Linked DNA regions of Homo sapiens. The protein of the gene in region 3 purifies or fractionates together with the protein of the main gene of each other region. This does not show direct contact. Each region holds a gene or a part of one and is shown on either strand. Other genes may lie near its edges. The genes, in order: MELK, TANGO6, SNX21, ZNG1A, DDX11, MADD and EIF2A.

Evidence for each region.
Region 1: the proteins of SNX21 (region 3) and MELK purify together in Homo sapiens (affinity purification with mass spectrometry; 2 studies listed by BioGRID and IntAct, with this or other methods). This does not show direct contact.
Region 2: the proteins of SNX21 (region 3) and TANGO6 purify together in Homo sapiens (affinity purification with mass spectrometry; one large-scale study listed by BioGRID and IntAct). This does not show direct contact.
Region 4: the proteins of SNX21 (region 3) and ZNG1A purify together in Homo sapiens (affinity purification with mass spectrometry; 2 studies listed by BioGRID and IntAct, with this or other methods). This does not show direct contact.
Region 5: the proteins of SNX21 (region 3) and DDX11 purify together in Homo sapiens (affinity purification with mass spectrometry; 2 studies listed by BioGRID and IntAct, with this or other methods). This does not show direct contact.
Region 6: the proteins of SNX21 (region 3) and MADD purify together in Homo sapiens (co-immunoprecipitation; 3 studies listed by BioGRID and IntAct, with this or other methods). This does not show direct contact.
Region 7: the proteins of SNX21 (region 3) and EIF2A purify together in Homo sapiens (affinity purification with mass spectrometry; 2 studies listed by BioGRID and IntAct, with this or other methods). This does not show direct contact.

Annotation. Positions count from the first base shown.
Region 1 is NC_000009.12:36,666,895-36,670,394, forward strand, and holds part of MELK (maternal embryonic leucine zipper kinase), read left to right. Parts: intron 1-2,415; coding exon 2,416-2,512; intron 2,513-3,500. UniProt on the Homo sapiens protein: Serine/threonine-protein kinase involved in various processes such as cell cycle regulation, self-renewal of stem cells, apoptosis and splicing regulation. Has a broad substrate specificity; phosphorylates BCL2L14, CDC25B, MAP3K5/ASK1 and ZNF622.
Region 2 is NC_000016.10:69,077,531-69,081,030, forward strand, and holds part of TANGO6 (transport and Golgi organization protein 6 homolog), read left to right. Parts: intron 1-3,500.
Region 3 is NC_000020.11:45,832,652-45,836,598, forward strand, and holds the start of SNX21 (sorting nexin-21), read left to right. Parts: upstream 1-1,147; 5' UTR 1,148-1,268; coding exon 1,269-1,289; intron 1,290-1,549; coding exon 1,550-1,817; intron 1,818-2,307; coding exon 2,308-2,465; intron 2,466-2,526; exon of another isoform or gene 2,527-2,942; coding exon of another isoform or gene 2,943-3,026; exon of another isoform or gene 3,027-3,039; coding exon of another isoform or gene 3,040-3,042; exon of another isoform or gene 3,043-3,947. UniProt on the Homo sapiens protein: Binds to membranes enriched in phosphatidylinositol 3-phosphate (PtdIns(P3)) and phosphatidylinositol 4,5-bisphosphate. May be involved in several stages of intracellular trafficking.
Region 4 is NC_000009.12:123,697-127,056, forward strand, and holds part of ZNG1A (zinc-regulated GTPase metalloprotein activator 1A), read right to left. Parts: intron 1-3,360. UniProt on the Homo sapiens protein: Zinc chaperone that directly transfers zinc cofactor to target metalloproteins, thereby activating them.
Region 5 is NC_000012.12:31,090,860-31,094,359, forward strand, and holds part of DDX11 (ATP-dependent DNA helicase DDX11), read left to right. Parts: intron 1-859; coding exon 860-1,012; intron 1,013-1,986; coding exon 1,987-2,033; intron 2,034-2,385; coding exon 2,386-2,465; intron 2,466-3,500. UniProt on the Homo sapiens protein: DNA-dependent ATPase and ATP-dependent DNA helicase that participates in various functions in genomic stability, including DNA replication, DNA repair and heterochromatin organization as well as in ribosomal RNA synthesis.
Region 6 is NC_000011.10:47,325,633-47,329,132, reverse strand, and holds part of MADD (MAP kinase-activating death domain protein), read right to left. Parts: intron 2,590-3,500; coding exon 2,581-2,589; intron 2,396-2,580; coding exon 2,326-2,395; intron 476-2,325; coding exon 429-475; intron 88-428; coding exon 1-87. UniProt on the Homo sapiens protein: Guanyl-nucleotide exchange factor that regulates small GTPases of the Rab family. Converts GDP-bound inactive form of RAB27A and RAB27B to the GTP-bound active forms.
Region 7 is NC_000003.12:150,553,287-150,556,786, forward strand, and holds part of EIF2A (eukaryotic translation initiation factor 2A), read left to right. Parts: intron 1-3,500. UniProt on the Homo sapiens protein: Functions in the early steps of protein synthesis of a small number of specific mRNAs. Acts by directing the binding of methionyl-tRNAi to 40S ribosomal subunits.

The DNA.
Region 1 (3,500 bases), on a different chromosome or scaffold from region 3:
GTGTGTGTGTGTGATGGTGTGTGTGTGGGGGGGTGCGGTGGCGCTGCCTGTGGTTGTTATGAGAATTCAGTGAGATAGCCTCTACCCTGCAATGGTAGCTGCTATTGCATTCTTTCCCAATGAAAGGGTCTCTTTCTGTTCTGTTGTTTCTCTTACTGTAAATACAGTACCCTTTGTGACTCATGAGATTGGGCAGGGAGATAAAACGGACCTCAGCTCACCTTAGCTCATTCAACGATCTTTTTTTTCCCCTTTTTTTCTTTTTTTTTTAATTTCTTTGAGTTGGAGTCTTGCTCTGTTGCCCAGGCTGGAGTGCAGTGGTGCGATCTCGGCTCACTGCAACCTCTGCCTCCTGGGTTCAAGCGATTCTCCTGCCTCAGCCTCCCTAGTAGCTGGGATTACAGGCGCCTGCTACCACGCTCAGCTAATTTTCGTATTTTTAGTGAAGACAGGGCTTCACCATATTGGTCAGGCTGGTCTCAAACTCCTGACCTCAGGTGATCTGCCCTCTTCAGCCTCCCAAATTTCTGGGATTATAGGCGTGGGCCATTGTGCCCGGCCCAGGGCTTTTTTATTTAAAAAAAATTTTAATGCCATAATCCCTTCCATTATTGACATTTTTTACTTTTTGTGTAACTCTGAAGGTTTTGCAATATGGGTAGTTTGGAATTTATTTTATAATCTTGAAATATTATCAGTTGACATATGTTGTCATGACGAGAAAGATTGTGTTGGTCAAAGCTATTATTGGTTGTTTCTTTTTAAACACGAGCCACTTAAGGAAGCAAGTGGCTGAAGCCATGATTGTTAGCTTCCACTGGCACTTTGCATTTTTCTTTCTTTTCTTTTTTCTCTTCTCTCCTCTTCTCTTCTCTTTTCTTCTTTTTTTTGAGACAGAGTTTCACTCTTGTTGCCCAGGCTGGAGTGCAGTGGCATGATCTTGCCTCACTGCAACCTTCGCCTCCCAGGTTCAAGAGATTCTCCTGCCTCAGCCTCCTGAGTAGCTGGGATTACAGGTGCGCACCACCATGCCCGGTTAATTTTTTGTATTTTTAGTAGAGATGGGGTTTCAACATGTTGGGCAGGCTGCTCTCGAAACTCTTGACCTCAGGTGATCCACCTGCCTCGGCCTCCCAAAGTGCTGGGATTACGGGGGTGAGCCCACCATGCCCAGACCTGCATTTTACTTTCATTGTGAGTTATTTTTGACATAAACATAAATTTCATTTTCGTCACTCCTACACAATGCAGGCATTGGCAGTTTGTTGAAGGGCAGTTCTGTATGGTGATAGATACTGTCTGTATACAAAGATGAAAACTGTTTTTATAAATATTTCTGATTGCTCTTATTTTCTTGTTCTTGTGGAAAGTGAGAATGTAGCCAAATAGTCATAAACAAAACCAAGCCCCTAATCTCTTTTAAAATTTTGATATTATATCTTTGTTTTTATAGTGTGAATATTATCTCTAAAGGGTATAAAACTTTTAGATCATGAGCTAATCAGTATAACCAGATTCGTTAGTACAAATTTGTCATAAACTATCTGGAATGCAAATACCCTACTTAGAATAAAACACAAAATTCTGGAACAGGGAATATAAAAAATAATCAAAGCTTACATCTCTTTTTTTTTCCGAGATGAAGTCTTGCTCTGTCTCCCAGGCTGGAGTGCAATGGCGCGATCTCGGCTCACTGCAACATCTGCCTACTGGGTTCAAGGGATTCTTCTGCCTCAGCCTCCCAAGTGGCTGGGATTACAGGCGTGCGCCACCACGCCCAGCTAATTTTTTTGTATCTTTAGTAGAGATGGCATTTGACCATGTTGGCCAGGCTGGTCTCGAACTCCTGACCTCATGATCCGCCCTCCTCGGCCTCCCAAGGTGCTGGGATTACAGGCATGAGCCACTGTGCCTGGCCAAAGCTTACATCTCTTTAATAACTTATGTCAAGCTTTCACAGGGGTCTGTTCTTTTTGCCTAACATGAGTTGAATCGGGCTATGAATTCAATTAACACCTTTTAATACTAGATCAATTAAAAGCATAAATTGGGCCCTTGTATAAATACAGATTGACTTTTATTTTTAGAAAAAGAATCAGTAATTATGAGATTTGTATTTATATGATCTGTTTAGATTTATCATATGATGTTTATAATAAAATTAAAAGCATGGCCTAAATTTGCAGTGAAGAAAAAAAAGAAGAGCCACACATACAAAGCAAAATGATTTTGTTTTTATTATAAATCACATGGAAACATTTCTTGAAAGAATTAGAGCCTTCGACATCACAGGTCAAGTGATTATACTGTTTCTGAGTCAATGAATAATGTGATACCTGCATTATTATTAATAATAGAAATTTCAGAACCATAGTATGTGCTGCATATGGATTGTGTTTGTTCTGTTTCTAATAGCTAGAAACCAGTGCCTGAAAGAAACTCCAATTAAAATACCAGTAAATTCAACAGGAACAGACAAGTTAATGACAGGTGTCATTAGCCCTGAGAGGCGGTAAGTGTTTGGTTTTTTTAGACTCTAATCTTTAGTATATGTAACCAGATTTCCTTTTTCATGTATTAATAGACCTGATTAAGGTAAATCATCACATAGATTCTGTTGGAGAGTAGGAATATCTGTTTATGTGTGGATGACCTGTGGCCATTCCTGGACCTGTAGCCACTGCCTTCCTCATGGGGTAGAATCATGAAACTGATCAGCAGTAGGACGGCACCTTAAGTACAACAGGCTGGGAAGACAGTGGTCCTCACCCCAGCCAACTAGTTACCTCTCTGAGGCCCATCTTACCCTTCTCTTCTGCCAGTAAAATACAGATATCCTCTAACAGATTGTAGTCCTCCCAAATCGTAAAGATACTGTTGTTTCAAAGAAAATCCTCTGTATGAAAAGTTCTGCAGCATAGGTAACTCTTCAAGTTGCTATTCTTTTATAGCAATTTCTTAAAGGCATTGTCTATTTTCAAGACAATTGGAGAATTAGAATGTGGACAGGGTATTAGATGATATTATGGAATTATTATTAATTTATTGATGAAGAAACTGAGGAGATCAGGAATAAAATGATTTATCAAAGCTATATAGTACAAAGCTGGAGCCAGAACCCAGGTCTTCTCATTCCTAATCTTATGGTTTTTCTCCCACAGTCTGGAAGTGCTGGAGAACTACCTAGAAAGCCAACTAACACCACAGTAGTTTCTATTGAAAAATGCATTCAGGTTCCAAAATATTTACATAACTGACCATTTTTAGAACATTATCCGTTAGTATTTGGTAACTGCTTAGCTTCTCAATAATGTGTATATATGTGGTTGAACTAGTTTCCTTAATTTTATTTAACATTTTTCAGTGCAATGGTACTATGGTTTTTTTAAATCTCAGTGTCAGTGCTTGAAATACTTAACTATCTCCAACCAGAAAAATTTCAGAACAAAAGGATAAAATATGCCTAATAAACAGCCATATGTAACGTAAACTTCTCAGCA
Region 2 (3,500 bases), on a different chromosome or scaffold from region 3:
AAAAGGCAAGGCTGCCAGGCATGGTGGCTCACGCCTGTAATCCCACCCAGCACTTTGGGAGGCTGAGATGGGTGGATCACTTCAGGTCAGGAGTTCAAGACCAGCCTGGCCAACATGGTGAAACCCTGTCTCTACTAAAAATACAAAAATTAGCCGGGCGTGGTGGCACGTGCCTGTAATCCCAGCTACTCGGGAGGCTGAGGCACAAGAATCGCTTGAACCCAGGAGGCGGAGGTTGGCAGTGAGCTGAGATAGAGCCACTGCACTCAAGCCTGGGCAACAGAGCGAGACTCTTTCTCAAAAAAGAAAAAAGAAAAAAAGGCAAAACATGGCCTCAGTGTCAATAGTACTTACCATCTAGAGAGGAAAACCTTTTAAAGTACACAATAAATATTTATTTTATTTTTTATTTGTTTATTTTTTATACCACCAGCCTGCCCCACAACAAATATTTACATTACAGTCCTGATAGGGGCTACAAACAGAACTCCGGGAAGGGCAGGAAGACTTACCTAGGTGCGGGGGTTAGGGAAAGAATCCCGGAGGCCAAGGGTATAAGAGTCCTAGGAAGAGGAAGCAAAATATTAATAGCCTCCCAGGCTGAGGGACTAGCATATGCAAAGGCCTTGAGAGGAGCTTTGTTCAGGCAAGAAAAGAAAGAAGGCCGGCACAGCTGGAGCACAGGCGGCCAGAGGGAGGCCCGCTGTGGGGAAGGGTCGGCCTGGGGAGCTTGTTCTATGTAGCCCTTTCCCCTGACTTCCTGCCTTCACTCCCCAGTGTCCATGCTGATCAGGAATATCGAAAGATGGAAAGGCTCTTGCTCTCTTCTTATAGCAAGTCCAAGACACGTGGTGCTAGACACAGTCTACTTGGTGGAATGCTCAGGGGACTCTGGGCCCAGACCATGTGCTTGTTACCCGCTGAATTAACTATTTCCCATCATTTCCATTCGCCATCTCCAGTGAACTTTCCTATTCCTAAAATGTGGCCTCTCTTTTCTCTGATGTCTCATCACTCTCTCTCTGCTCCCTGTGACCTTTACCATGTTCTATTCTGTATTGTCTGTCTTTACGTGACTATCTTCTTATTCATCCCCACTAGACCAGAAGCCTTTTAAAGGCAAGATCTAGATGTTTCCATTGTTAAATGGCCTTACAAAGTCTTTGCGTAGAGTTGACTAAGTTAAATATACGTTTCTGTATTTTATTTTATTTTTATTTTTATTTTTTGAGACAGAGTCTTGCTCTGTCACGCATGCTGGAGTGCAGTGGCGCAATCTTGGCTCACTGCAACCTCCAGCTCCTTGGTTCCAGTGATTCTCCCATCTCAGCCTCCTATCTCAGCCTGGCATTACAGGCATGCACCACCACGCCCAGCTAATTTGTGTATTTTTAGTAGAGACAGGGTTTTGCCATGTTCGCCAGGCTGGTCTCGAACTCCTGAGCTCAGGTGATCTGCCCGTCTCGGCTACTGCACTCCAGCCTGGGAGACTTGGTCTCAAAAATAAAATATAGGCTGGGTGCAGTGGCTCATGCCTGTAATCCCAGCACTTTGGGAGGCCAAGGTGGGCGGATCACCTGAGGTCAGGATTGCAAAACCAGCCTGACCAACATGGCAAAACCCTGTCTCTATTTTTTAAAAAATTCAAAATTAGCTGGGCATGGTGGCGCATGCCTGTAATCCCACCTACTCCGGAGGCTGAGGCAAGAGAATCGCTTGAACCCGGGAGGCGGAGGTTGCAGTGAGCCGAGATCGCACATTGCACTCCAGCCTGGGCAACAAGAGCAAAACTGTCTCAAAAACAAATAAATAAATAAATAAATAAATATAAAAGAAAATAAAGAAACCGCATAGTATAATGGCTAAAATTATAGGCCCTATTTCTTTTAAGCAAAACACAAAATCCAGAAACCACAAAGGAAAACATTTGATAAATTTAACTACATCAAAAATGGAAATTTCTTCACCAGAATAAAAAATTTCACAAAGAAAAAATGCCAACTGGGAGAAAAATATTTGCAACTCATATGACAGATAATGGACTTAAAAAAAAATGGAGTTTTTACGAATCATTAAGGAGAAGCTGAATTATACATACCAGAAAAAAATACAAATTTATGTTTATATATTTGTTGGAAGTATGCAAATTCATAACAGCAAAATGCTATTTTTTTCTACTGGATTAGCAAAAATAAGGAGTTTACAATACATGGCACTGATAAGAATATGGGGAAACAGGAATTTTCACAGTGTTTGAGGAAAATGTAAATTCTTGGAACCTCTCTGGCCATATCTATCAAAATTGTAATGCGCATTACCCTTTGAGCCAGAAATTCCATTTCTAGATATTTGTCCTACAGATATACTTGTACATGTCTGTAATGACCTAAGTATCAGAATGCATATTGCACTGGGCACAGTGGCTTATGCCTCTAATCTTGACTACTCAGGAGGCTGAGGTGGGAGAATCACTTGAGGCCAGGAGTTCAAGACCAGCCTGCGCAATATAGCAGGACCCCATCTTCAAAAAAATGTTTATTGCAGCAATATTTGCAATAGCAAAAGATAAAAAGAATTTAAATTACTTTCATTGGAAAGATGGTTAAATAAATTGCATTACATTCATCCTCTGCAGCTATAAAAAATAAGTTATTTCCATATGTGCCAATTATACAAAGGATCTACAAAACATGTTAAGTGGGGGAAAAAATATGGTACACAACAGAGCGTAGAATATAATTTTGTACTTTAAAAAGGTAAGGGAAGGCTGGGCTTGGTGGCTCATGCCTGTAATCCCTACCTCTGAGGTGGGAGGGTTGCTTGAGCCCAGGATTTCAAGACCAGCCTGGGCAACATAGCAAAAAAATAAAAATGCCAAGCATGGTGGTGTATGCCTGTAGTCCCAGCTAACTTGGGAGGCTGAGATGGAGGATTGCTGGAGCCCAGGAGATTGAGGCTGCAGTGAGCTATGATTGCACTACTGTACTTTAGCCTGGACAACAGAGTGAGACCCTGTCTAAAAAAACTGGGGGAGAGGGGACAAGAAACAGAAATATACACATGTGTGCTTGTAAACACTTAGAAAATGTCTTCATATGAATGATGTCCTCTGAGAAGGGAAACAGCTAGGAGTCTGGAGTAGAACAGAGCCTTACCTTTTAATATGTACTCTTTTGTACTGTATTATCTTTTCAATAAAAATAAAAAATAAGAACACAGGCTCTGGATGTTGGAAACCTGGCTCCATCATTTTTTTAGCTGAGTAACCTCAACCCTCTAACCCTCTGTTTCTGCAAATATAAGATGGGGCTAATAACCTTCCTCTAGGCCGGGCGCGGTGGCTCACGCCTATAATCCCAGCACTTTGGGAGGCCGAGGCGGGCAGATCATGAGGTCAGGAGATCGAGACCATCCTGGCTAACACGGTGAAACCCTGTCTCTACTAAAAATACAAAAAATTAGCCAGGCGTGGTGGTGGGCACCTGTAGTCCCAGCTACTC
Region 3 (3,947 bases):
GGAGCTACTTTGGAGAGATTTTGATTTTATTTATTGTATTGTATAACTATCAAAATCTGCCCTAACAACTGATACCTAGGCTTTGTGACAGGAAGCCACAATAACTTTTTCTTGACCTGCAGCTGCCCTGCGGATAAAAGATAAAACAAAGCTGGGGAGCCACTGAGATTATCAGGCCTGCTGCACAGGAAAAGGGCAGTATGCAGCAGGGGACCTGGGCTCCAGGCCCCATACTCAGAAACCTCTGAGGGAGGCAGAGGCAGGTGGATCACTTGAGCCCAGGAATTCGAGACCAGCCTGGGCAACATGGCCAAATCCCATCTCTACAAAAAATACAAAAATTAGCTGGGTGTGGTGGCGAACGCCTCTATTCCTAGCTACTGGGGAGGCTGAGGTGGGAGGGATGACCTGAGCCCAGGGAGGCGGAGGTTGCAGTAAGCAGAGATGGTGCCACTGCACTCCAGCCTAGGTGACAGAGTGAGACTCCATCTCAAAAGAGAAAGAAAGAAAGAAAGAGAGAGAGAGAAAGAAAGAAAGAGAGAGAGAGAAAGAAAGAAAGAAACCTCTGGCAAGCTGTGTGGTTAAGCCAAGTAACTCACCCTCTCTGGTCCTCAGTTTCCCTGTTTGCCTACTTCCCATGTGTGAGGTTCAAATCAGATTGTGCAAGCCTGTGAACACTGTAGAAACAATAATCATTATGTAAGTGATCATTTCGTCAGCCTTTGCTCTATGCCAGGCACGGGACGAGCGTTCTTACAAGAGCTGCAAAATTAGTTTTAGCAGTATTGTTCCTGTTTTACATATGAGAAAACCTAGGCTCAGCGAGGTCAGATTCCAACCAACCCAAATCACGCATCTTCTCCTGGCCCTTCGTTTTCTCTCGGGAGACATGGCCTCCCTACTATTGCATAATTACTTTGTGAAGTTAAAGAGCGTTGGGTGGAAATGAGTGGGACAGATTGGAGATGACGTGGGTGGGGTGGGAGGATTCAAGGAGGGTACGCGCCTGGCCGGACTGGGATGACTCTGCGGCAGGCCTGGGACTCCCTCAGGCCGACCCAGGCTTCCCAAGTCCCTCCTGGAGCCAAGGGCCCGGGATTCTCGGGCGGCTCGGGCGAGCGGGCGGGGCAGGAGGCGGGGCGGCGGCAGGAAGCTGCCCGAGCGGCGCTCTGAGCGGCCTGAGCCCGGCGGAGCCCTGCAGAACCCGGCCGACCTCCATGGGCTGCGGGGGGCTGCACCCGGACCCCTGGGGCGCGGCGCGCCCCTGAATGCACCGTGGGACGCAGGAGGTAGAGGCGCACGAGGCGGCGCAAGAGACATCGGGAGGGTCCTGAGCCCCTCCGGGGAGGAACGCGGTCCTAGGCTGAGTGGGTTGGGGGGAAAGCGATGCTGGCTGGGTCCCCTGGTTCGCAAGACCTCGGACTGCCAGGGGGTGGGGCCTCACCGCGCCCCTCCCTCTCCGGTTCGGGCCCCGCCCCTCCTCCTCCTGCGCCGGGCTGGGGTACCCCTCCTCCGGGATCCGGTACACAGCGTCGCGCGCTCCCCCCAGGGTGCCATGGCCTCCCGGCTCCTGCACCGGCTGCGGCACGCCTTGGCCGGCGACGGCCCCGGGGAGGCGGCGGCCAGTCCAGAGGCCGAGCAGTTTCCGGAGAGCTCAGAGCTGGAGGACGACGACGCCGAGGGCCTGTCCTCCCGACTCAGCGGCACCCTCAGCTTCACCAGCGCCGAGGACGACGAGGACGACGAGGACGAGGACGACGAGGAGGCTGGCCCTGACCAGCTGCCCCTCGGGGATGGGACGTCAGGAGAAGACGCAGGCGAGTGCAGGAGGACGGAGGCGGGAACCCTGGGGCTCGATTAGGCCTCCATCCCAGCCGCGTTCCCAGAGCATCCAGGGCGCTAAGTTGATCCAGCTGAAACTCCCACACTTCTTAAAGCGCCTGGGCCACCTCTTGGCTGTGTGACCTTGAGAGAGTCTTAACCCCCCTCTGAGCCAAGTTTTCCCTTGTGTCAAGTGGGAGAACTCACTCTCATCTCAGAATTGCTGCAGGCATTAAATGTACAGGGCTTGGGATCCGAATGGAAATGATGTATTAACGATATTTTGAGGGTGGAGCTATTAATTTAGCCCCTACTGTCTGCCAGGCACGGTGTTTGGCTCCTCGGTGCCTCTCTGTCCCTCAGTTTCCATTTCTGTAAAAAGGGGGTAAGTCCTGCCTCACACTGGGAGGATGAGTGAGGCCACGTCAGTGGTTGATGTCGACCCTGGCCCTAGGCCCATTGATATGACTGGTCATGTGTCTGCAGAACGGAGCCCCCCACCTGATGGGCAGTGGGGCAGTCAGCTCCTGGCGCGGCAGCTGCAGGATTTCTGGAAGAAGTCCCGGAACACCTTGGCACCCCAGCGGCTGCTCTTCGAAGTGACCAGCGCTAACGTTGTCAAGGACCCGCCCTCCAAGTACGTGGTGAGTGAGGGTCTAGAACCCCTGGGCTGTGAGTCCAGAAGTATGGCTAGGAGCAAGTAGGGAAGACCCCAACTTCCTGAGGGGTCTATGTAGTTATAAATGGTTACCTTGTTTACAAATGGGGAAACTGAGGTCAGAAAGGGGATGTAACTTGAGCAAATCCTCACACAAGACTTAGTTTCCTTGAGACTGACTGAAGTGGGGATTAAGGACCTTCCTCTTAACCTGGTTTTGAGACTAAGAGAACTGGTGTGTGCACTTCCCCACCCAGCCCACAAGGTTTTTGCAAATTGTAGCAAGATGTGAGATACAGAGAGACAGATGTTATCTGGGTCAAACTTGAGATCCAAGTTGCATGGGCTGGTAGTTAAGGAAATAGGCTTTCGATCCAGACCAATCTTGACTCCCACTTATTTCCAGTTGTTTGACTCTGGGTGAGTTGTTTAACCTTGGTCATCTTCCGTTTCCTCATTATAGCAATGGGGAAAATGCAGAAGATTACAGCAGGAGTTAAATGAGACAATGGACAAAAAGCCCTTAGCAGTGTGCCTGGCATTATGACGTGGTCAATGAAATGGTAGCTATGTCATCATTATTTAACTTTGGGTTGAAAATGTTTGTCATCTAGGGCCTGCTGTGTCCTTATAACGCACAGGTCAATCAGTTCTCAAGCACCCGACCTTGTCCCTAAGGGCTAGACTTAGAGGGTTGGTGGAGGTTAGGATGAAGAGCAATGTTGGGGAGGACCTTGGAGTCCCTTGCTGTTTTCCTTGCTGTTGAGAGACTGACTTGGAGAATGAGGTCTGCTCCTTTAATGCCCACAGCGACTCCTGCTCCAGTCCCTTTTCAGGCCAGGCCTGAAAGCCAGCTGAGCTGGCCACTCCTGTCAGTGGCAGCTCTCCATCTCTCACTCCCCTCCTCTTCACCACCCTTCTCCACCTCTGACTCAGCAGGAGGGGGCCTGGAGCCCAGTCCCACATCTGGGCCTCTCCACCCTTTTCTGTTGCTGTTAGTAAGCAAGGGCCACACCCATGGGGTGACTACTCCAATTTCAGCAGGGACCGACTCCGATTATTGAGTCTTTTAAAAAAATTTTTGAGGCCGGGCGTGGTGGCTCACGCCTGTAATCCCAGCACTTTGGGAAGCCGAGGCGGGCGGATCACGAGGTCACGAGACCATCCTGGATAACACGGTGAAACCCCGTCTCTACTAAAAATACAAAAAAATAGCCGGGCATGGTGGCAGGCGCCTGTAGTCCCAGTTACTTGGGAGGCTGAGGCAGGAGAATGGCGTGAACCCAGGAGGCAGAGTTTGCAGTGAGCCGAGATCGAGCCACTGCAGTCCGGCCTGGGCAACAGAGCGAGACTCCGTCTCAAAAAAAAAAAAAAAAAAAAAAAAAAATTTTGAGACAGGGTCTCGTTCTGTCACTCAGGCTGGAGTGCAGTGGTGCAGTCATAACTCACTACAACCTCCAACTGGGCT
Region 4 (3,360 bases), on a different chromosome or scaffold from region 3:
AAACTCACTCAAAAACCCTGATGAAGGGGTCCTCATTATTTAATTCATTCTTTCGTGGATTCTCAGCAATAAGAATATATGTAACACATACAATGTACTCACTACACAGGGCCAGGTACTTTTGCCTGAGTCACCTCATTTTATCTTTTGACTTACTCTTCACAACAATCCTGGGGAGTGAAGATAACTATTTCATTTTATAAATTGGGGAAAATAAGGGTCAAAAAAATAAGCTACCCAGAGCCAGGAATAAAACTCAAAACCAAAGTAAATCTGTTCTCTTAAAAAAAAATACAAAAGAAAGGCTTGGCTTATCTTTAACTGAATAAGCATGTGCCAAGAGGAGAAGAGTTCTTAGCGATGAGAATGATAGGATAATGCCCTCTTTGGCTTTAGTAAGGGGGACATCATCATGTATTGAATATTAACTTTAGGATTTATTTTTCTTCTTTATCTTGATAAATCTCTCACTGTCTACCCTAAAGAAACAGAAGCTTAACATTTCCTCTAACAGGTCACCTAATTAAAACCCAAACCTCCCTTTGCCAATATAACCCCAAATTTCAAACTCAGAGATGAAAATACACAAGGGCTAAGCATAACATTATAAAAACATACACCCCACCTTGGAAAATAGAGGCTCAAAAGCCAAGCTCAAAATGAATTTAAAAAGGTAGAAAATAATATACTAAAGCACATCTTTGCATAACTTCCTAGAACTGCATATCTGGCCTAGCAATTTTACTCACCATTACATAATCATACAGGCTTACAGCAGAAAATACAAAAAGACCAAAACTATTTTATAATCCAAACTCAAGAGAATCGCTAAAGTATTAAAGACCAATTTAGGCAGAAACATATGAGACATTTCTTTCTTTCCATAGGTTACTGGGGAACAGGTGGTGTTGGTTAACTTCTTTAGTGGTGATTTGTGAGATTTTGGTACACCCATCACCTGAGCAGTATACACTGCACCCAATTTTTGTCTTTTATTCCTCATCCCCTTCCCACCCTTTCTCCCTGAGTCCCCAAAGTTCATTGTGTCATTCTTATGCCTTTGCATCCTCATAGCTTAGCTCCCACTTATGAGTGAGAACATAGCGATGTTTGGTTTTCCATTCCTGAGTTCTTTCACTTAGAATAATAGTCTCCAATCTTATCCAGGTCACTGCGAATGCCATTAATTCACTCCTTTTTATGGCTGAGGAGTATTCCATTGTATGCATATATATCACAGTTACTTTATCCACGCATTGATTGATGGGCCTTTGGGTTGGTTCCACGTTTTTGCAATTGCCAATTGTGCTGCTATAAACATGCGTGTGCACGTATCTTTTTCGTATAATGACTTCTTTTCCTCTGGGTGGATACCTAGTAGTGGGATTGCTGGACCAAATGGTAGTTCTACTTTTAGTTCTTTAAGGAATCTCCACAGTTTTCCATAGTGGTTGTACTAGTTTACATTCCCACCAGCAGTGTAGAAGTGTTCCGTGTTCACCACATCCATGCCAACATCTACTATTTTTTTGATTTTTTTATTATGGCCATTCTTGCAGAAGTAAGGTGGTATCGCACTGTGGTTTTGATTTGCATTTCCCTGATCATTAGTGATGTTGAGCATTTTTCCATATGTTTATTGGCCATTTGTATATCTTCTTTTAAGAATTGTCTATTCATGTCCTTAGCCCACTTTTTGATGGGACTGCTTTTCTTGCTGATTTGTTGGAGTTCATTGTAGATTCTGGATATTTGTTCTTTTTCAGATGTATATATTATGAAAGATTTTCTCCTTCTCTGTGGGTTGTCTGTTTACTCTGCTGACTGTTCCTTTTGCTGTGCAAAAGTTCTTTAGTTTAATTAAGTCCCAGCTATTTATCTTTGTTTTTATTGCATTTGCTTTTGGGTTCATGAAATCCTTGCCTAAGCCAATGTCTAGAATGATTTTTCCAATGGTATCTTTTAGAATTTTTATAGTTTCAGGTCTTAGATTTAAGTCTTTAATTTATCTTGGGTTGATTTTTGTATACAGTGAGAGAGGAGGATCCAGTTTCATTCTCCTACATGTGGCTAGCCAATTATCCCAGCACCATTTGTTGAAAAGGGTATCCTTTTTCCACTTTATGTTTTTGTTTGCTTTGTTGAAGATCAGTTGGCTGTAAGTATTTATTTCTGGGTTCTCTATTCTGTTCCATTGGTCCATGTGACTATTTTTATAACCGTACCATGCTGTTTTGGTGACTATGGCCTTATAGTATAAGTTTGAAATCAGGTAATGTGATGCCTTCAGATTTGTTCTTTTTGCTTAGTCTTGCTTTGGCTACGCGCATGTGTATGTTAAACCATCCCTGCATCCCTGGTATGAAACCCCTTGATCATGGTGGATTATCTTTTTGATATGTTGTTGGAATCAGTTAGCTAGAATTTTCTTAAGGATTTTAGCATCTATGTTCAAGGATATTGGTCTGTAGTTTTCTTCTTTGGTTATGTCCTTTCCTGGTTTTGGTATTAGGGTGATACTGGCTTCATAGAATGATTTAGGGAGGATTCCTTCTTTCTCTCTCTTGTGGAATAGTGTCTTTAAGACTGGTACCAAGTCTTCTTTGAATATCTGGTGGAATTCTGTTGTGAATCCGTCTAGTCCTGGACATTTTTTTGTTGGTAATTTTTTAATTACCATTTCAATCTCCCTGCTTGTTACTGGTCTGTTCAGGGTAATTCTTCCTGATTTAAGCTAGGAGGGTTGTATCTTTCCAGGAATTTCTCCATCTATTTTAGGTTTTCTAGTTTATGCATGTAAAGGTGTTCATGGTAGCCTTGAATATCTTTTGTATTTCTGTGGTGTCAGTTGTAATATCTCCCGTTTCATTTCTTATTGAGCTTATTTGGATTTTCTCTCTTTTCTTGGCTGATCTTGCTAACGGTCTATCAATTTTATTTATCTTTTCAAAGAACCAGCTTTTTGTTTCATTTATCTTTTGGATTTTTTTTGTTGTTTTGTTTCAATTTCATTTAATTCCGCTCTGATCTCCTTTCTTCTGCTGGGTTTGTTCTTGTTTCTCTAGTTCCTTGAGGTGTGACCGTGGATTGTCTGTGCTCTTTCCGACTTTTTGATGGAGGCGCTCAGGGCCGTGAACCTTCCTCTTAGCACCGCCTCTGCTGTGTCCCAGAGGCTGACAGGTTGGGTCACTCTTGTCGTTCAGTTTGAGGAATTGTTACATTTCCATCTTGATTTCATCTTTGACCCACTGATCATTCAGGAGCAGGTTATTCCATGTATCGGCATGGTTTTGAAGGTTCCTTTTGGAGTTGATTTCCAGTTTTATTCCACTGTGGTCTGACAGAGTGCTTGATATAATT
Region 5 (3,500 bases), on a different chromosome or scaffold from region 3:
AACTGAGGAAAGCTGCCAGGCCCCATGGTGTCCCAGGCCTTCCCTCCCGTCTGTTTGCCTTTAGAGCAAGATTAGTGCTATAGGCATTTATACACAAATACCATAATATGGCCCAAAATCTTTACAATTTTTGAATTTTTAAAGTACTTTGACCATATTTTGCTTTTATGTTAATAGTATTCCAGTGAAATTCTGTGCATGGGGACACTGGAGCCCAGAAAAGTTAAGTGACTCATATTTTCTCACCAAGCGTGGGTGATGGAGCCATTCAGTTTTCCGATATTTTATTTTTTATATGAGTATTCCTTTAACTGGAAACTTTCCTAACAACAAACACCTAAAGATGTGCAGAGTTGCTTTTATTTTTGTTACCCCAGCTCCACGCCTTAACCCTCACTTTGAAATAGGATGTATCAACCCTATTTTGCAGATGAGGAAAGCAAGAGTCAGAGAGGTTAGACAACTCTTCCAGAGTCACACAGCTGGGGAGTAGCAGCTCCAGGAGTAGAAGCTGGGGCCGCTTCCTGGTGCACCGATGGTCTGCAGGTGTTTGTGGAAACTCGGGGGCCTCCGGGGCGACCTTGAGGACATGGACAAGGCTAAGCAGGGGTTCCCTTCACCCAGCCCTGCCCTTGGTTTACTCAGGAGTCAGACCAGCCCTAGTTTCCTGTGTTTCATGTATTGGCTTTTCATGTGAAACTCGAGGAGAGCTTGTCCGTTGCCACAAGCTGTTTTTCGAATGTCTCTACACAGTCCAGGCAGGAAATAGAAGCACTCACATCAGGAGCTCAGTGTCAGGCAGGCAAGGCTCCTGCAGGGGAGCCCCGCCCTGCTCAGGTGGCCTCATCTCCCCTCCCAGCTGGTGGTGCTGCCCTATCAGATGCTGCTGCATGCGGCCACTCGGCAGGCCGCGGGCATCCGGCTGCAGGACCAGGTGGTGATCATCGACGAGGCGCACAACCTGATCGACACCATCACGGGCATGCACAGCGTGGAGGTCAGCGGCTCCCAGGTGTGTGGGCCTCCCCTCCCCGGGCCAGGGCCTGCTGTGACGTAAAGGGACTTGGATGGTTCCTCCAGACACCTGGGCCAAGAGTTCCTCCGGAGGTGGGGCTTGATAGAGGGTGCACGAGTCAAGGCGGTGACCTCATCGGAGGCTGACCATGGCTTTCCAGTGCATCGGGGGACCCCGCTATGACAGAGTGCCTCATTTCCCTGCACCTCATCTGCCCCCATGCTCCTGAGTCCCTCCAGCCCTGGATGCCAGCAGCCAGTTCTGTAAGCCAGGGAGATGGCATGTGTGAGGCAGAAGTCCCCTCAGGATTGGATTTTGTCATTACTGAAGTTGTCTGGAGGGGACTGAATTGAGGAATGCTCAAGATCAGCGCAGGCTCCTCCTGCTGCCCTATCATGCGCCATGCATGGCACCAGGTGTCTCTGGTCTTCACGCTGACTCTGCCATGGGTGTGGTGTTCCTGTTTTACATTGGAAACTTGGAGATTCAAAGATGGTCAAGCTCTGTCCTGAGGTCATGCAGCTCATGAGTGTGGAGCTGGGGTGTGCCCACTGGTTTCTGACTGTGAAAACCCCCACGACATCCCACCAGCTCTACTGACCTGTGCCTGGGCTGAATTGAGGCTGGGATGTGATGGTGGCCTTGAACCATCACTCTTTGTAGACTCCAGGTCTTTTCCCAACCCGGTGGAAACTTAGCAGGGAGATTCCATACTTGAGGAATTCAGCCTCTTGCTTTTTCTCTGACCCACAGTGGACACTGGAGGAAAACTTCCCTTCCTTCCCTTTTCTCTTAGCTCCCACCAGCCTAAGGGCTGTGGAAACCCGTACCTTTTGTCTGCAGCCAGCCCCCTCTCCTCCCTTTGGTGGCTTCCTGTGTGTCCAGGGCCAGCATCTTCTAGGTGAATCTAAGATGTCAGTACCTTAGCCCTCAGCTGCTTGCTCAGAGCCTGGTTTGTGTTCTTTCCCCAGCTCTGCCAGGCCCATTCCCAGCTGCTGCAGTACGTGGAGCGATACGGGTGAGATGTGACCCTCTGAGGTAGTGGGACAGTCCCTTGGTGGCCCCCTGCGTGGGCCTCTGAGAGGCAGGCAGCACTTTGGTTCCCACCTCTGGCCCGGGCTGTGGCGGGGTGGAGCTGCATGCCATTCATGTCCTAGGCACATCATGGTGTGTGCTGCACACAGACCTGGAAGGCTGGGGACTGACCGCTGGCTCTGAGGCCTGGGGCCGTGGCCAGCCTGCTCTCTGGGAAAGGATTTGTAGCTTGTGACCCAGTTTGAGAGGCACCGGGCAGCAAGGCTTCCACTGGGGTGGGCGGGGCGAGTCGCCATCAGGGCACCACCACTTAATGTCCGTTGGCTTCTTCTCAGGAAGCGTTTGAAGGCCAAGAACCTGATGTACCTGAAGCAGATCCTGTATTTGCTGGAGAAATTCGTGGCTGTGCTAGGGGGTGAGAGCCTCGTCCCCCTGCTGACCCCGGGCCTGCAAAACTCGCTGGGCTGCTTTTTCCTTGGATGCCCATCAGGACACCTCAGTTCTCTGTGTTTTTAAGAAGGGTCGGCCGGGTGCGGTGGCTCACGCCTGTAATCCCAGCACTTGGGAGGCCGAGGCAGGTGGTTCACCTGAGGTTAGGAGTTTTGAGACCAGCCTGGCCAACATGGTGAAATCCCATCTCTACTAAAAATACAAAAAAATTAGCTGGGAGTGTTGCCGTGGCCTGTAGTCCCAGCTGCTCCAGAGGCTGAGACAAGAGAATTGCTTGCTCAAACCCGGGAGGCGGAGGTTGCAGTGAGCCGAGATTGTGCCACTGCAGTCCAGTCTGGGCGACAGAGTGAGAATCAGTCTCAAAAAAAAAAAAAAAAAAAAAAAAGAAGGGTCTTGGTCATTGATTTAGAAAATTCTTGTTCTTTGTAGCTTAGTTGAGTTGTCTGACTTGAGCTTTATTTAGACCCATGGGTTCTTTGCCCATGTTCTGAGGACTTTTTATTTCAGGCCCTGCTCTGGGGGGATATTAAGGATACAGCATCACATAGACACACGGTGTTTCCGTGATAGGCATAGTTCTGTGGGTTGTTCGAAGCACTTGCATATGCGGTTTTGTGTGCCCTGTGAGAACGCAGTGCTGGTATTTGAATCCTTGTTGATAGACGCATAAACTAGAGCTCGGAGCAAGGGCTGCTCCCAGCACGGGAGCCTGGGATCTTCTGACTCCAGCTCCCACGCCTCTTTGCATGACCCTGTCACGTCCCCTTCTTTTATGATGGGGCACCCCCTTGGAAGGCGTCTGTGGAAGTGGAAGCTGCAGAAAGCCTGTGGGAGCTCCTGGCGGGAGCTGGTCTCGTGTTGCTGCTCTGAGCCACCAGCTCTGCTTTGCCTCAGGCTCACCAGTGGCCTGGGCAGCTCCTCTGTGCTCCGGTGCCCTGCATACCTTGGTCTGGCTGCTGTGTCCCGGCCTCCTGGAGAAGGGGTGAAAAACATGAACTTA
Region 6 (3,500 bases), on a different chromosome or scaffold from region 3:
GGGCGGGGTTCTGAGATCTTCCTCACTGCTATGAACTGCAGCCACGTACGAGAAGAGACATAATACGGAGTAGCAGATTTCGTGGGCCTAGAGGAGAGAAAACCAGGCGGATCACGATACTGAGACTCCTCCATCTCCATATGTGAAGGATCTGCCAATGGGCAACTCCTGCCCTAACACTGGGCATGGGCCTCTGGGCTAAACGTGAGCTCCAAGCAAGGAAGCTGTCCCCATGGGAGAGGGGATCCGTGTGTGTGTGTCTGTCTCTCAGGGCTCAAGACCTGTTTCAGCCTGAGTTGAACCTTTGGCAACAAAACGAGGTCCCCACTCACCCCTGTGCGCTCAGAGGGCCCTCCCCTCCTCCTGTCCGAAGGTCCCCCAGGGAGCCCTGCGCACCGTGGCCCATCAGGGTTGAGCGGCACACTCACCATTGGTGTCTTGTACTTGTGGCTCACCACTTCTTTAATTTCAGGAACTAAAACCGGACGGGCAAGAGACAAAACAGAAAGTTCAACACTAAGAGCAATCGTGCCATGCTCCCCCAGGCGGCAGCGCCCGGCGTCAGGGTCCCCTTCCCCTCTGTGGCCTCTCACAGTGGCTGCAGCAGCTTAGGCTATGACAGGGCAGAGGCCACCAGAGGCTCTGTCCAGACTCTGCCAGCTGGGAGGACATGGCCCTAGCCTCCTCAGCTAGGCCTCTGTCATCCGCAGTGGCGTTTACTTGATGGCCGTGATTCTACCCACTTCTTTGAAAGCCCTGGATGGGAGGGACGGGCCTTTCACCAGCCTGGTCACAGCTACTGTCCAGGGCCCCTGAGGAGCTGCAGTGGGGAATTCCCAGGTTTTGGCTGGGAGGAGAGAGCTCTCTCTAGCTTGTGTCCAACTTTGCTGAGACACCCGTGAACTCGTCACCAGCCTGAAAATTGGGTCATGTTAAACACAGTTCCCGTTATTCCCAGCCCCCTACACAGAGGGTCTTGAGGCTGGATGAAGAGGTAACATGATATAAACCCACAGGATGTGGCAGTGTCCTTCCCTGAGTGGCAGGAGAAGCCCAGACCTGCCTGTGTGAGGGAGAGCGTCTGAGGGCTCTGGAGCAACACACCCAGCAGAAGACAGGCGAGTACAGCACCCAGGGAGGGAGGTGACAGGGAGCATCAGGCAAAATACACACATGTCCACAGCCCAGAAGGCAAGAGTGAGAGTCCCCCCGCTCCAGCCATGCAGGGGTTCTGCTTGGCCAGAGGAAGGAGTAGGCCCCCCAGGCTCAGCCACCATCATGGCCCCTTGAGACTGGGAGCAGAGGGGCCTGGCATCTCCCTGGGGGCCAGAAAAGGCAGGAGGAGAATTGGCCGTACCTTCTTCTGACCCTGGGAGGTAGAATTTGGGGGAACCCAGGGTCAGCAGGGAATAAACTCATCAAAGGTAGAGCAAGAAGCCCCAGGCCATTCTCCCGAGTTGGAAGATTCCCCCAAGTATCTCTCTGACAGAAGAGAGAAGGGAACACACGGGGAGGAAAGTCCAGTGAGCCGGTGAGAAGGGGGAGGCAAGGTAGGAAGAAAGAGGGTAGGGGAGAAAGGAAGAGACGAGCTGGCAGTGTGAGGAGCTGGTTCGATGGGAGCTACCCACCCAGGGCAGGGCCCAAGGCAGAGACCTGGGGAGAGGCAGCACGAGCCGAGGTCACTTTACCTGCTGGAGAACGAAGGTTTTCATAGCAGCGATGAGGGGCACAAAAGAATGAAGCACAAACACAGCAGGAACTCAAAGCCCCAGGGTGAGAACCCACTACACCACTCCCTAGCGCTGGCTCCCAGCTTCCGGCTACAGCTGTCCCGCTAGACTCCTCTGTCCCTCAAGTGAGTCTGCCTGCGACGCCCGGTGCCCCTTTGTCTGGCACAGAGGCCAGGTGGAGACCAGAGCGGCGCCAGGGAGGCTGGCTAGCGCACTGGGCTGCTAGAGAGATTGCAGCAGGTGACATGGACATAGTGGAGCTTGGGGGTCGCCAGTCTGCTGTGTCCCAAACTTTCTGACCACTGGCTGGCCCAGCACGGGGAGGTGGTGCTACTTCACTGAGCTGCTTCAGGACCACCTCTAAACTCGAAACCCACCTGAGGCCCCATTTGCTCTTCTGCGATCCATTATCTATCTTTCCCTTCCACATCCCGGCTCTCATCTCAGGGGTCCCTTTTCTTCCTTGTCACTCCTGCTCCTCCTGACTTCTCTACAGAGGTTCTTCTTCTCCCTGCCCCTAGACCCTCCTCTGGAGCTCCGAGGTTTGAGTTACTGCCATGTGAGTCCAGACCTAAGAGCAAAATAGTGTAATTACCAAATTCCTCCAGGACAAAGACGCCTCGAACTGTATTGCACTTTTTAATGTGATTCAGCTCTATGAAAACCTGCAAGAGAGGGAGGGAGGCCGGGGTAAGGCCCACAGGCTCCACCCCTGCCCCACACAGCACACTCTCCCAGCTACAGCCCCACCCACACAAAGAAAGTCTATTTCCCAAAGAGAGGACAGAAGAATCCACACGCACACAACTCAAAAGCGCTAAGAAGCGAAGATAGCAGAAAGGGCATGTACCTTCCGCTCCTGGCCGGAGGAGAAAGCATGGGAGAGAAATGAAGGCGTTAGTTTGAATGGTCAAACCCAACCCGAAGGCCCTGCTGCTGGCCTGGGCTGCCCGCCCGTACCCTCTGCCCAGGGCAGTGCTTGTAAGACACAGTGCCCCAGGGGTCCCCACTCAGCCCATTAGGTCTCTACCCTTCCATGCATCCTCCTCCGGCGCAGAGGGCTGGCACGGGCGCAAAGCTCCCCTCAGACTGTCCTCAGGGTGGGAGGTGTTGGTATCCTCCTTGAAACAGGATCCAGGATCTCCCAAGAGGTATGTGGTGATAATAATATCAGCTACCACTTGCTGAGCACCTACTTGGGGTTTTACAAATACGATTTCTAATCTCTGCACCTACTACGTGACACAGTAAATAGTATTACCCCCATTTTCTACATGAGGAAACTATGGATCAGAAAGTTTCTTTGCCCATGAACGTGGAAGCTGGGCTTCAAATCCAAGCATGTCCTCACACCGAAGCCTGTGCTTTTCCCATTTACCCCAGACTGCACAGCTCCACCAGGAGGTCTGCTGCCTCCTCCACTCCAACTGAACACTGTGTGGCAGAATAGGGGGCAGGTCGCTATCTCATTACTAACTGTGAGGTGAGATTGAGAACCCGGGCTTTCCTCCCCTTCTCTGCAGTCTATCTTCTAGGGGCCAAGCCTTCAACCACAGACTGGCTTGGATGGCTGCCCAGTGGGGCTATGCCAAGGGCAGGACGAGGAACAGGGCAGAGCACCTGGGCGTTGCTCAGCAAGATCTCATCTTCAGAGGCCACGGCGCTAAAATGTGGTCAGAAGTCTGCTCCCCAAGAAGTACTGACACCTTTGTGGTCCAGAAAAGCACTTAGGTAGACCCCTCTCTGGGATGGTCCTAAGGTCTTTGGGGT
Region 7 (3,500 bases), on a different chromosome or scaffold from region 3:
CACTCCAGCCTGGGCAAAAAGATGAGACTCCGTCTCAAAAAAAAAAAAAAAAAAAATTGGGAAACTAAAATAAGTGATTCTAGCTTTATATCAGGTTGGTGGCATAACCATGTGAAGACCTGCAAAATTCTTTTTTTTTGAGACTGAGTTTTGCCCTTGTTGCCCAGGCTAGAGTGCAGTGGTGCAATCTCGGCTTAATGCAACCTCTGCCCCCCAGGTTCAAGCGATTCTCCTGCCTCAGCCTCCCAAGTAGGTGGGATTACAGGTGCCTGCCACCATGCCTGGCTAATTTTTTTGTATTTGTAGTAGTGACAGAGTTTCACCGTGTTGGCCAGGCTAGTCTCAAACTCCTGACCTCAGGTGATCCACCTGTCTCATCCTCCCAAAGTGCTGGGATTACAGACGTGAGCCACCATGCCTGGCCTAATAGTTTTCTTTTTAACTGAAAGTTGATATTGTCATTTGAATCTACTATAGGATAGAGTAAATTAATTGTATTAATGTTGTTAGGCACCAAGATTTTTCAGCATTAGAGTGAAAAGATAGACTTGCCTATATCAGTATGAACTCATGATTTCCTTTCATAAAACATTTGCATTTCCTAGTTCTGGCCAATGAAAAGGCCTGGAAGCAGTGATAACACAGTAGCAGTGAATACCCCATCCTCACAGATTGTGATCTCTAAATACAATTCTTCACTAAAAGGAACCACTTCCTTGGAGAAGTGGTCAACTCTAGGTCTGGGACAGAAAATGTACAAGTTGAGGTAGCAACTTTTGTGCCAGAAAGCAAAGCTATAAAAGACTAATGAGATTTTGTTAAAGGGTCGTAGGAAGCAACTTGAAGAGATTCACACCAACCTAAGATGGGAACATTAAGAATTATGAATAGAAAGATAAAGCATGTCAAGTATATAAATGCTCCCCCGAAAAATCCCCCCTCCGTTTAAACCTAACTGGTCAGCATTGGTGGTTGATGGAGTCCTCACTCATTACTTTGAAAATTGATAAATAAAGGGAAGGAGTCAAGCATTTATCTTGCCTTTCTTATACAAACTGTTTCTCAGAGTAACCAAGTGGTTGATGAGAAAAAGAATTTTATAGACGAATTCCAGTTAATAAATGGAGAATGGATGCTGGATCAGACAATTACCATTTTGTAATCCTCAAGAAATGGATCTAGGCCACTGGTTCTCAAACTTTACCAAGCATCAGAATCATCTGAAAAGCTCGTTAAAATCCAGATTGCAGCTCTCTTTCCAAATGTTCGGATTCATTAGATCAGCGGTAGGGCCCAATAATTTGCATTTTTAACAAATTCCCCAGTGATACTGATGCTGCAAATCTGGGGACCCCCCTTTAAGAACCACTGATCTAGGCAGATGATCATCAAAAGATGCTGAAACCTTTAGCTGAACTGTTTGATGACTGTTAATGGGGAACTTTATAATCAGGCTGTTGTCATCTGACTCTACTGACCAATTTTTATTAGGCCCAGTTCTCTAGAACCTTGCTACAGGAAGCATGGGCCCAACCAAGACCAACTATATTGGCATCACTCCTGAGCCAGTACAGAAATGCATCTCAGGCCCTACCCAACTTACTGAATCAGAATCTGTATTTTAGCTAGATCTTCAGATGATTTATATGCACTTTTTTTTTTCCAGAGTCTTGCTCTGCTGCCCAGGCTAGAATGGAGTGGTGTAATCATGGCCCACTGTAGCCTCAATCTCCCAGGCTCAAACAATACTCCTGCCTCAGTATCCCAAGTAGCTGGGACTATAGGCGCATGCCACCATGCCTGGCTAATTTTTGTATGTTTTGTAGAGATGGGGGTCTCACTATGTTGCCCAGGCTGCTCTCCAACTCCTGGGCTCAAGAGATCCAACCGCCTTGGCCTCCCAAAGTGCTGGGATTACAGGCCTCAGCCACCATGCCTGGCCTGTATGCACATTATTTATTTATTTACTTATTTATTTATTTTTTTTGAGATGGAGTTTCACTCTTGTTGCCCAGGCTGGAGTGCAATGGTACAATCTCGGCTCACTGCAACCTCTGCTTCCTGGGTTCAAGCGATTCTCCTGCCTCAGCCTCCCAAGTAGCTGGGATTATAGGCACCTGCTACCACACCTGGCTAAATTTTTTTATTTTTAGTAGAGACGTGGTTTCACCATGTTGGCCAGGCTGGTCTCGAACTTCTGACCTCAGGTGATTCACCCTCCTTGGCCTCCCAAAGTGCTGGGATTACAGGTGTGAGCCACCACACCCGGCCATGTATGCACATTAATGTTTGAGAAGCACTACTCTAGAAAACCCAGTCTGGCTGGGCGCGGTGGCTCATGCCTGTAATCCCAGCGCTTTGGGAGGCCAAGGTGGGTGGATCACTTGAGCCCAGGAGTTCAGGATGAGCCTGGGCAGTATGGCAAAACCCCATATCTATTTAAAAAACAAAAAACAAAAAAAAAACTATGGCAAAGTTATGTGCTACACTTCATTAGGGTATGCAGTCCCAAGGCTGCAGGAGTAGGGGAGAAAGGGAAATGAGACAGGGAAGGAGTTAAAGCAAGTATGATGGGATATACTGAGGTGACCACAAATCCACAAAATATAGCCAACTTGCTTGGTCATGTGTGCAAAATTTTTGTCTCCAGAAAGGCTGTATGGAACATTTGTACTTCAGAACAGTCTGTTGTGTGGAGACAGGGTAAGAAGTTTACTACAGCCTCTTAGCCTGTTTGGGTTGAATCTGAGTGCCAGAGCTCCTCCATGTGCTGCCGCAGTGCATGGTGGAAGCCATGTGGAAGTATGGCCCTTAACTCTGCAGATTCAAAGACAACCAGTGGCGTTAGGAGATGAGGTCTCTTCATTGAATAGTTGAGGCGTGGCAGCAGGAAGAGTTAGGTAGATACAAGGAGGCACATGACTGAATCCAGTACAATCTCAGTATCACTAAGAGTAGAACAGAGAGATATTTATGTGTCTCCTGGTGAGTTATTATACAGTAGGAACTGTGCTGTACATATCTTCTACGAAAGTTAAAAAAACTTCAAACTCAGAATTTAGTCAGTCTTTTACATGAGTAGTTCTCAAATGTGGCTGCACAATAGAATGACCTGGGGAGCTGTTAAAAAACCCAGATATCCAATCCAAGTATTGGGTATTAAATGATATTAAGAAGTTAATTTTGTGAGATGAAGTGGCATGGTGGTGATTATGTTTTTAAAAAAATATACTCACTGGTTAGAGATGCATAATCAAGTATAGAGCAATATGATAATGACATCTAGTTTTTGCGTTGGAATGTTGTGGCATGAAAGATAAAAGTGGGGAATAGATAAAATTGGCTCTGAGTTAATAGTTACTTAAGCTTGATGATGAGTGCATAGGTGGATTATCATACTTTTTCTCTATTTTTTGTGTATGTTTGAAATTTTTCATTCAAAAAATTATACCAGAAGGAAAGAGGCAAAATTTCCCAATTGCCAAGACCAAGAAAATAAT